2 linked regions of the Homo sapiens genome follow. The gene in region 1 interacts genetically with each later gene. Each region holds a gene or a part of one and is shown in the gene's direction. Other genes may lie near its edges.

Region 1 (3,792 bases):
TTCTGTTTTTCTTTTTCCGCTGAGTTCTGTCCGCAGAAACCGTTCTCTGGAACAGTGCAGATTGCAGATTACGTTTACTACCTCCGCCATGTCCCGCCCTTCAGATGTTTGAAGATGACTCTTAGATTCCAGTCCCCCACCAGTTCAAATTAGTCATTGGTGATTAGTCACATTACTTTAATGACTCATTGAGCTAAAACTATGAGGTAAAACCATTAGCTAAAGCTTTTCAGAGAGGTAAAAGGCAGACATCTTACCGATTTAATGAGACTCCCAGCATTCTGGGCTCGACACATGGAGCTTAGATGCTAGCGGTGGGAGTAGAAAGGAAGGGACCATTATAAGCCATGTCAGGATGCAAATGTTTTTAAAAACACCTTGGTGTCATACTGGATGTGCTGCTGTAGGAGTTAGGGAACAGTGAAAACACAGCTGAGGGTGAGTGTAAGTTTTGAGATGAGGAGAGTAATTGATAAAAGTAGGGGAGGCACCACTAGTTGCTAGGGCACTGCCCTGCCTGCTACTCTAAGAAGGGTTCGGGTAAAACTTGCCTATGGCTGGCTCTGATTTGCTGTATGTTGTGATGAGGCCCTGCCTAGCTAAAACCAGTAGTGATCAGCTCATAATAGTTTCCAGGGAAGCCTTGCTGATCACATTTCGTAATCTCTATCTTAATATCCATATTTTTGAGTTTGTTGGCTTTTTGTTTTAGCTGAAAGTGTTTTTAAAGTACGTTTTACAGAAATCAGCTCAGCTCTTAATTCTCACTAATGACACTTCCTTGCCTTTTGAATGTTGACCGCATTCTTCTTAAAATAGAAAAGAAAGGAGTTTTTAGCCATCCTTGGTGATTGTAACTTACTAGGGACCATTTGGAATTAGTAAGCCTTTCTACTCACTCCCAAACATCATCTTAATCTCCTCACTTTTATAACAGAAGAACCCAGGTTCCAAAATGAACAGGACTCAAGCTGTTTGCCTAGAACCTCACAATTAAATGACTCTTCTGAAATGGATCCCTCAACACAGAGTAAGTTGATAAGCAAGAAAATGTTATTCTGCCATTTTAAATTTCACAATATTTAAGCAAAATTGTGGCTTAAATTATATTTATAGCATGTGGACGCCATTTTCCCAGGGCACTGATAATGGAAATCCTAAAAGGGAGGCAGCAAGATTCTCTCAGATTCCTCAGTGGGAGAACTGGGTGCAGACCAAATTCCAAGTAAAGAAAATGTGCTGAATCCACTAAAGCCACTCCAGTTCTTGAGCACCAGCACTGCTGCCCAAAAACATAGTTGGAGGTTCTAACAGAAGTCTCTAACTAGGTTGATAATATGAAATTCATAACTATTTTGACATCCTTGTGAAAAAAAATCTCAGCGTTGTTTTTCAAAGCTATTGCATAGTTGAATTTTCTTGACTCTGTTCATTTGGGCTGGGCTCCCTCCAACAACCATTGAAAACATGTGTCTGCCCTGGGCACTCCGATGGAATTCTGGGCCCCAGCAGCAGTAGAATGGCCAAAGGCAAATGGCTTCATGCTGATGAGCTGACTTTTGATCCCTGGACGTGGTTCATTGGAGGGTTTGGGGTTTTTTAGAAGGGACAGGGTAGAAACATCTTACAGAAATGTAATCACAGCATTAGGCCATCCATAAAGAAGCTAACAATCTTCCCAGTAAAGTATATTATTTATTTTTAAAAGGGAGGAGGAGAAAAGACACTCTGTTAAACTTACTTTCAACTATTTTTTTTCAATAAAATTGCCATATAGATGAAGCAGTATTTAACAAGATCTTTTGACTTCTTTTGGAAGAACAAACTTTTATACAATGTCCCAAAAAGACGAGCTTTATAAGAAATATGCCTAATACCAAGTCATGAGATTCCAGTATTGTGTAAAATATTTTTGCTAACTCACATTTTTATATGCATCTATAAATTCTGTGCCAGAATATGAATTAAACCAAAAATCATTCAAGAGTCAGATGAAGTATGAGAGATTCTCAGCTACTCTCTATTCTGACATATCAAATGGTTATTTGGCAGCAAAATACAAAAGCATGAAAGTTGTATTTCTTTGGGAGGAAAAACAGTTTTTCAGAAATTGAAGCTGACTGACTATTTGAATATGTAACTAAATTTCAGAGAAGTATATTTTTAAGGGCTTTTAAAAAAAATTTCAGTGTTCACTAGCCCCTCTAAATCAGTAACGCTCTTACACTTGGACATGTTGTAGTATTTTAATCTTGATTCTGGACCTTCCTGATATTAGCCAATATTAAAAAGCATTTGATTTACTTATTTTTATTTATTTATTGGAAAGGTAATCATGGTGTATATTTCACAGTTTTATGACTTGGAATGCCTTTTCTCATTACTATTAAGCATCATTGTGAGGAAGCTTACAGTTGCACAAACTCAAATTCTCTCTTAAATTAACAAGCTTTGTTTCTAACTTAAGATTGTTTGTATCCCAAGTATTTCAAAGCAGAGAAGTTCTCTGTTAGCATTCATTCAGTCCAACAAATAATTATTTGGCTTGTAAATGGAACCACCTAGGGCCAGGTTATATGTAAAATTTAGGTTTTAGAATTGCATTTCATTATTTGTTTTTACAACACATTTATCTTTAAAATAAATGCTGTATCACCGCTAACATCAGAAAACTCAGCTTTTCTAAATTTTAAATTTCGTTTTCAAGTTTCTTTAAATAGAAGAGCAGTAGAATGGGACACCACGGGACAGAATCTTATTAAGAAAGTGAGAAATCTTCGCCAGAGACTCACTGCCCGGGCTCGTCACAGATGTCAAACCCCTCATCTTTTGGCTGCATAGAATGCATGTCACCTTGAGACGGTCGAGAGAGAGACCTATTTTGCAATCAGTGACATTGATTTTTAGATTATTTATTTAAAATTCCTATAAAGATCAGCCCTTTGTACAGAAAAATGTGTCTATAAAAATTATGTGTTATTTAATTCTGATACTTTTTGGCTTGTAAATGGCTTCTTGAACTTTTTACAATAAAAATGTTTTAGAAACTGTTAAAGCTGTGTTAAGCTTTCAGGTTGCAGGGACCAGCATAAACCTCAGTAACTTTAGTTGATAAAGGTTTATCTTAAAGATGAATAGAGAAATAAAGAACAGGAAACCATCTCAACAGCTCTATAGCCTGGACTGAGGGAGAACTCAGCAGCAGGTGGAGAGCGCCAGCAGCGTGGAGTGGCCTATATCACCATCTTCCTGCCCACCCCCGCCTCTGCCAGCGGGACCCCCTCTTTGTCAGGGACCCCACCGGACTTGTAACATCTCATCTCTGCCCAGCTCCTTCTGCCCTCTGCCTGCTTCTTCTGGCAGCACCGACTGCTCTTCCTCCCTCCCTCCACTTCCTAGCTCCAGAGTGGGGCTGCTTGTGACTTCCTGAACCTTACTCTCTAAAAGGAGGGTAGAAATACTTGATATGACGATTCAGTAAGATCAGGCAGGCCAGACGTGGTGGCTCACACCTGTAATCCCAGCACTTTGGGAGGCTGCGGTGGGTGGATCACTTGAGGTCAGGAGTTCGAGACCAGCCTGGCCAACATGGTGAAACCCTTTCTCTACTAAAAATAGAAAAATTAGCCGAGTGTGGTGGCACATGCCTGTAATCCCAGCTACTTGGAAGGCAGGGGGAGGGGAATCACTTGAACCCAGGAGGCGGAGGTTGCAGTGAGCCGAGATCACGCCACCGCACTCCAGCCTGGGCAACAGAGTGAGACTCCATCTCAAAACAAAAACAAAGATCAG
Region 2 (4,545 bases), on another chromosome or scaffold:
GTCTGAACACTGTGGGGGTGGAGAATCACTGGGGAACATACTGGTGCTTGTCTACCACAAACCTATATCCATAATATATGAAGAACTACTACAATTTGATAATAAAAGACGTCAATTAAAAATGGGCAAAAGATCTGAATAAACATTTCATTAAAGAAAATATCCAAATGGCCAGTTGGCAGATGAAAAGATGTTCAACATCATTAGTCATTAAAGAAATGTAAATTCTCAATGACGTACCCCTACACATCTATAATCAAATAACTGATAATACTAAGAATTGGCCGGGATGTAGAGAAATAGGAACCCTCAGCCAGTAGGAATGTAAAATGGTATAGCTACTTTGGAAAACAGTTTGGGCATTTCTTTAAAAATTAACATAAATTTATATGGCCCAGCAATTCCACTCCTAGTTATTTACTTAACGGGAAATGTAAACATGTCCACACAAAGACTTGCATATGAATGTGGAAGCAGAATTATTCGTAATAGCCCAAACTGGAAACAAGCCAAATGCCCACCAACTGGTACATGCATGAAAAAACGTGCCACATTCATACAATGCAATGTTATTCAGCAATACCGGGCATTAGGCACTTTCGCCTAATATATTTATGATGTTCTCTGAGAGAATCCTGCAGAATGCTGGGAATGGGGAATAGCCTGACGCAGGCTGTTACTTAGAAAGAATGGAAAGAAAAATTAATGCCCTCTTTCCTACTTGAAACCCATCATGATTCCCAGTTATACACTGAGTTTGTGTCTGTCACTGACAGTTGATTCCTATGCATGATCTCATATTATCTTCGCAATGACACTGGGAGATTTATATTAATAATACCATGCTCCCTAGTTTATAGCTTCAAGAAACTAAAGCTTGCAAAGGTGTAACATCAGGTGTGTCCTTTTTCATACAAGATTGGATTTAATGGTTAACACAGATAAGGGTGGGTTTTCCCATTTCCAGAGTGTAAGGGTTTCGCTTCTCTCCCTCTGCCGGTCTCCTCCACTGTTTACACCCAGTAGGGCGTGGAGGGTGGCCTAGGGTGTGGCCCAGGAGGCTTCCCTAAGGGAAGGGGGTGGTGGAAACCAGGCGGTTTGAAGCCCATCAGGATTCCCAGTTATATATCGAGTTTGTGTCCGTCACTGCTAGTTGATTTCCATGCATGATCTCATATAATCTTTGCAATGACACTGGGAGATTTATATTAATAATACCATGGTCCCTAGTTTATAGCTTTAAGAAACTAAAGCTTGGAAAGGCCTAATAACATCAGGTGTGTCCTCCATTTTCATGCAAGATTGGATTTAATGGTTAACACAGATTAGGGTGGGTTTTCCCACTTCCAGAGTGTAAGGGTTTCGCTTCTCTCCCTCTGCCGGTCTCCTACACTCTTTACACCCAGCAGGGCGTGGAGGGTGGCCCAGGGAGTGGCCCAGGAGGCTTCTCTAAGGGAAGAGGGTGGTGGAAACCAGGAAGGAGACGAGAACCCCAGCGGGCAAGTCACGCAGTTACGCTTGTTCGCCCAGAGAATCCGGCAGGGCCTCCGCAGAGCCGTAAAGAGCTCTACAAGTCGTGAAGGGGCGAGGCGCAAAAGCGTAGCTTTACGGCGATTCGAGCAGTCGCGTCAAGCAGGCTATTCCGGGTTTGTGGCTGCTTGGCTCCACACGTGGGCCGCCGTAGGTATTCCGACCGGTAATTCCTCCTATTGGTGTGCAGCAGCCACATTGAAGGATAGAGTGGCAGCAGAGGCCAAGGATCGTGAGTTGATGGAGTTTGCTGCTGAAAATGAAGGGAAGTCTGGGGGAGGTCTCCACAGCGTAGCTGAGGGGGTGCGGCTAAGTCCAGAGCCTGGCAGGGAGGGAGTAAGGGACTTAGCAGGGGCGGAGGAGTTCGGCGGCGGAGAGGAGGGGACAGGGCTGACAGGGATAAAGGAGATAGGGGATGGAGAGGAAGGAAGTGGACAAAGGCCAGAGGAAATACCGATGGACCTAACGGTAGTGAAGCAGGAAATTATAGACTGGCCAGGTACAGAAGGCAGGTTGGCTGGCCAGTGGGTAGAACAGGAGGTGGAGGATAGGCCTGAGGTGAAGGATGAGAACGCAGGCGTATTGGAGGTGAAGCAGGAGACGGATAGTAGTTTAGTGGTAAAAGAAGCGAAGGTGGGTGAACCAGAGGTAAAGGAAGAGAAGGTAAAGGAAGAGGTAATGGACTGGTCAGAAGTGAAGGAAGAGAAGGATAACTTGGAGATAAAACAGGAGGAGAAGTTTGTTGGTCAATGCATAAAAGAGGAATTGATGCATGGAGAGTGTGTAAAAGAAGAGAAGGATTTCCTGAAGAAAGAAATCGTGGATGATACAAAGGTGAAAGAAGAGCCTCCGATAAATCACCCGGTGGGCTGCAAGCGGAAACTGGCCATGTCAAGGTAGGGCATGGGGGATTCCATTTAGGGGAATAAAGCTGTGGAGTCCTCATGTCTAGAGTGAAGGAAACCACACTATCAGGAGAAGGTGGAATAATGAAAAATGAGCACAAGTTTGGGTTTCTGGAGTCAGACGGCGTTCGCGGGGGTGGGTTGGGAAGTGGAGGGTGTTGTACATGACAACACAACAAATTCAGTGAAAATACATGAAATTAGTAGTGTCCAATGGGTAATGGTCAAGTTAGGAAAGTGGAAATTCTGGGGACCAAAAGATCAGTTGGAACTGGATCTGGCTTGACTTAATATGCTCTTTACTCGGTATTCCTTTGAGAGAGAATAGAGATGAGAAAGTCTAATAAAACTAACAATGACAAAGTAGATTAAGTTAAAACTAGGCAAAAATACACTTGACCTCAATTATCAAGCTTCTTCATGGGTGCTGTGAATATTTATTGCTTTTGATTGAATTTCCTTAGTGTGTGGATCATGTGACAAAGGAAATAAGAGTAGTCAGATTCTTGAGAATATTCCCGTCTAGAACACAGTGGGCTAAATAGAAGTAACTGTAGTTTGGTTGTCAGTATCCCAGGAGCATAGAAGAGCAGTTGAGGACAGATGATGGGTTACATGGCATTTCTAGATTATTTCGATGCTCATTCTAGATTAGGCGTGGAGTTCAGGAAAAAGGGTGCTACTACTACTCTCTAAATTTCACTTGGCCTTATATTCTTTGTCTGGTGTGTGCTTTAAAAATATCTAAACATAGCTCATGAATTGGACTTCTGGATACACACACATACAATCATTACCACATTTCCAGGAATCACAAGTTAAAATATCAGTGAATAATCTCATTCCCTGATTATAGTAGAAAAAGAAGTCAAAAGCGAGATGGGTTTTAAAAATTTTAATACATTTTCCTGAGTTACATATCACTAACAACATTGGAAATGTAGTTGTTTTGGGAAGGTTTCATAGAGAAGAATTTTCAAATGATGTTCAACAGCTATCAAATATTTTATCAGTTACTTGTCACTGAGTTTATAAATTGATTGGGAATTCTAAGTTTATAAATAAATACAATTAATATTTGATAATTTAATGTTACATGTGGGCTTTTGTAGGTGTGAGACTTGTGGTACAGAAGAAGCAAAGTACAGATGTCCACGTTGTATGCGATATTCCTGCAGGTATACATGTAACTTCCTACCTTTTAACCTGTATCTGTACCTTTCTTACCCTAAAATATAAAAGTACTTCCCCTTTGTCTTTTCAGTTTGCCCTGTGTAAAGAAACACAAAGCAGAACTGACATGTAATGGAGTTCGAGATAAAACTGCATACATTTCAATACAACAGTTTACTGAAATGAATCTCCTAAGTGGTAAGCCACTTTATGCATAGCAAATTGAGGCTTCCTGGCCATTGGTATATGTCACTTGTTTATTCTTCTGTTTTGAAATTTTTAGATTATCGATTTTTGGAAGATGTGGCAAGAACAGCGGACCATATTTCTAGAGATGCTTTTTTGAAGAGACCAATAAGCAATAAATATGTAAGATTTTTTCCTAATTTCTTCCAGTTAGAAGTCCTTCAAATCAATTAGATTCTTTTTTTTTTTTTAACTTACCAAATATATTAAGTGGCTACCATGATGTAGAGCTATTCTGATTACTTAAGGATATGGCTGTGACCCAAACAAAGTCCGTCCCCTCGTGGAGTTGTATTTAGTGGGAGATATAGGAGATAAGTAGAGGAACAAATGTAATTTCAGATAGAGTTAAGTTCATATAGAAAATAAAGAAGGCTCAAGAGATTAAAGAGAGAATGAAAATGGTCTTTGTTGGGGAGAGATTGTCAGGGTACTATTTTCGATACAGTGGTCAGGAGAAGCTTCTCAAAGAGATGATGTGTAAGCAGTGATCTGAGTGCTGAGAAAGAGGCTGTCATGTGAACATTTGGAGGCAGATTATCCCAGGTAGGGACAAAAGTAAAAGGAAAGACCTGAGTCAGAAACAAGGATGTCTGGTTTGAGGAATTAAAAGATTTGCAAGGTAACTGAAGCATAGTGAGTGAGGAGGAGAGTATTGAAAATGAAGTTAGAGAAACTGGTGAGGAGTTGG

What was found.
Region 2: changes in TBC1D31 (region 1) and ZNHIT6 together harm fitness less than expected from each alone (positive genetic interaction), as found in Homo sapiens cells (one large-scale study listed by BioGRID).

What each region holds. Positions count from the first base shown.
Region 1 is NC_000008.11:123,149,099-123,152,890, forward strand, and holds the end of TBC1D31 (TBC1 domain family member 31), read left to right. Parts: intron 1-937; coding exon 938-1,030; intron 1,031-2,707; coding exon 2,708-2,841; 3' UTR 2,842-3,055; downstream 3,056-3,792. UniProt on the Homo sapiens protein: Molecular adapter which is involved in cilium biogenesis. Part of a functional complex including OFD1 a centriolar protein involved in cilium assembly.
Region 2 is NC_000001.11:85,705,510-85,710,054, reverse strand, and holds the start of ZNHIT6 (box C/D snoRNA protein 1), read left to right. Parts: upstream 1-1,621; 5' UTR 1,622-1,770; coding exon 1,771-2,426; intron 2,427-3,547; coding exon 3,548-3,613; intron 3,614-3,699; coding exon 3,700-3,806; intron 3,807-3,891; coding exon 3,892-3,977; intron 3,978-4,545. UniProt on the Homo sapiens protein: Required for box C/D snoRNAs accumulation involved in snoRNA processing, snoRNA transport to the nucleolus and ribosome biogenesis.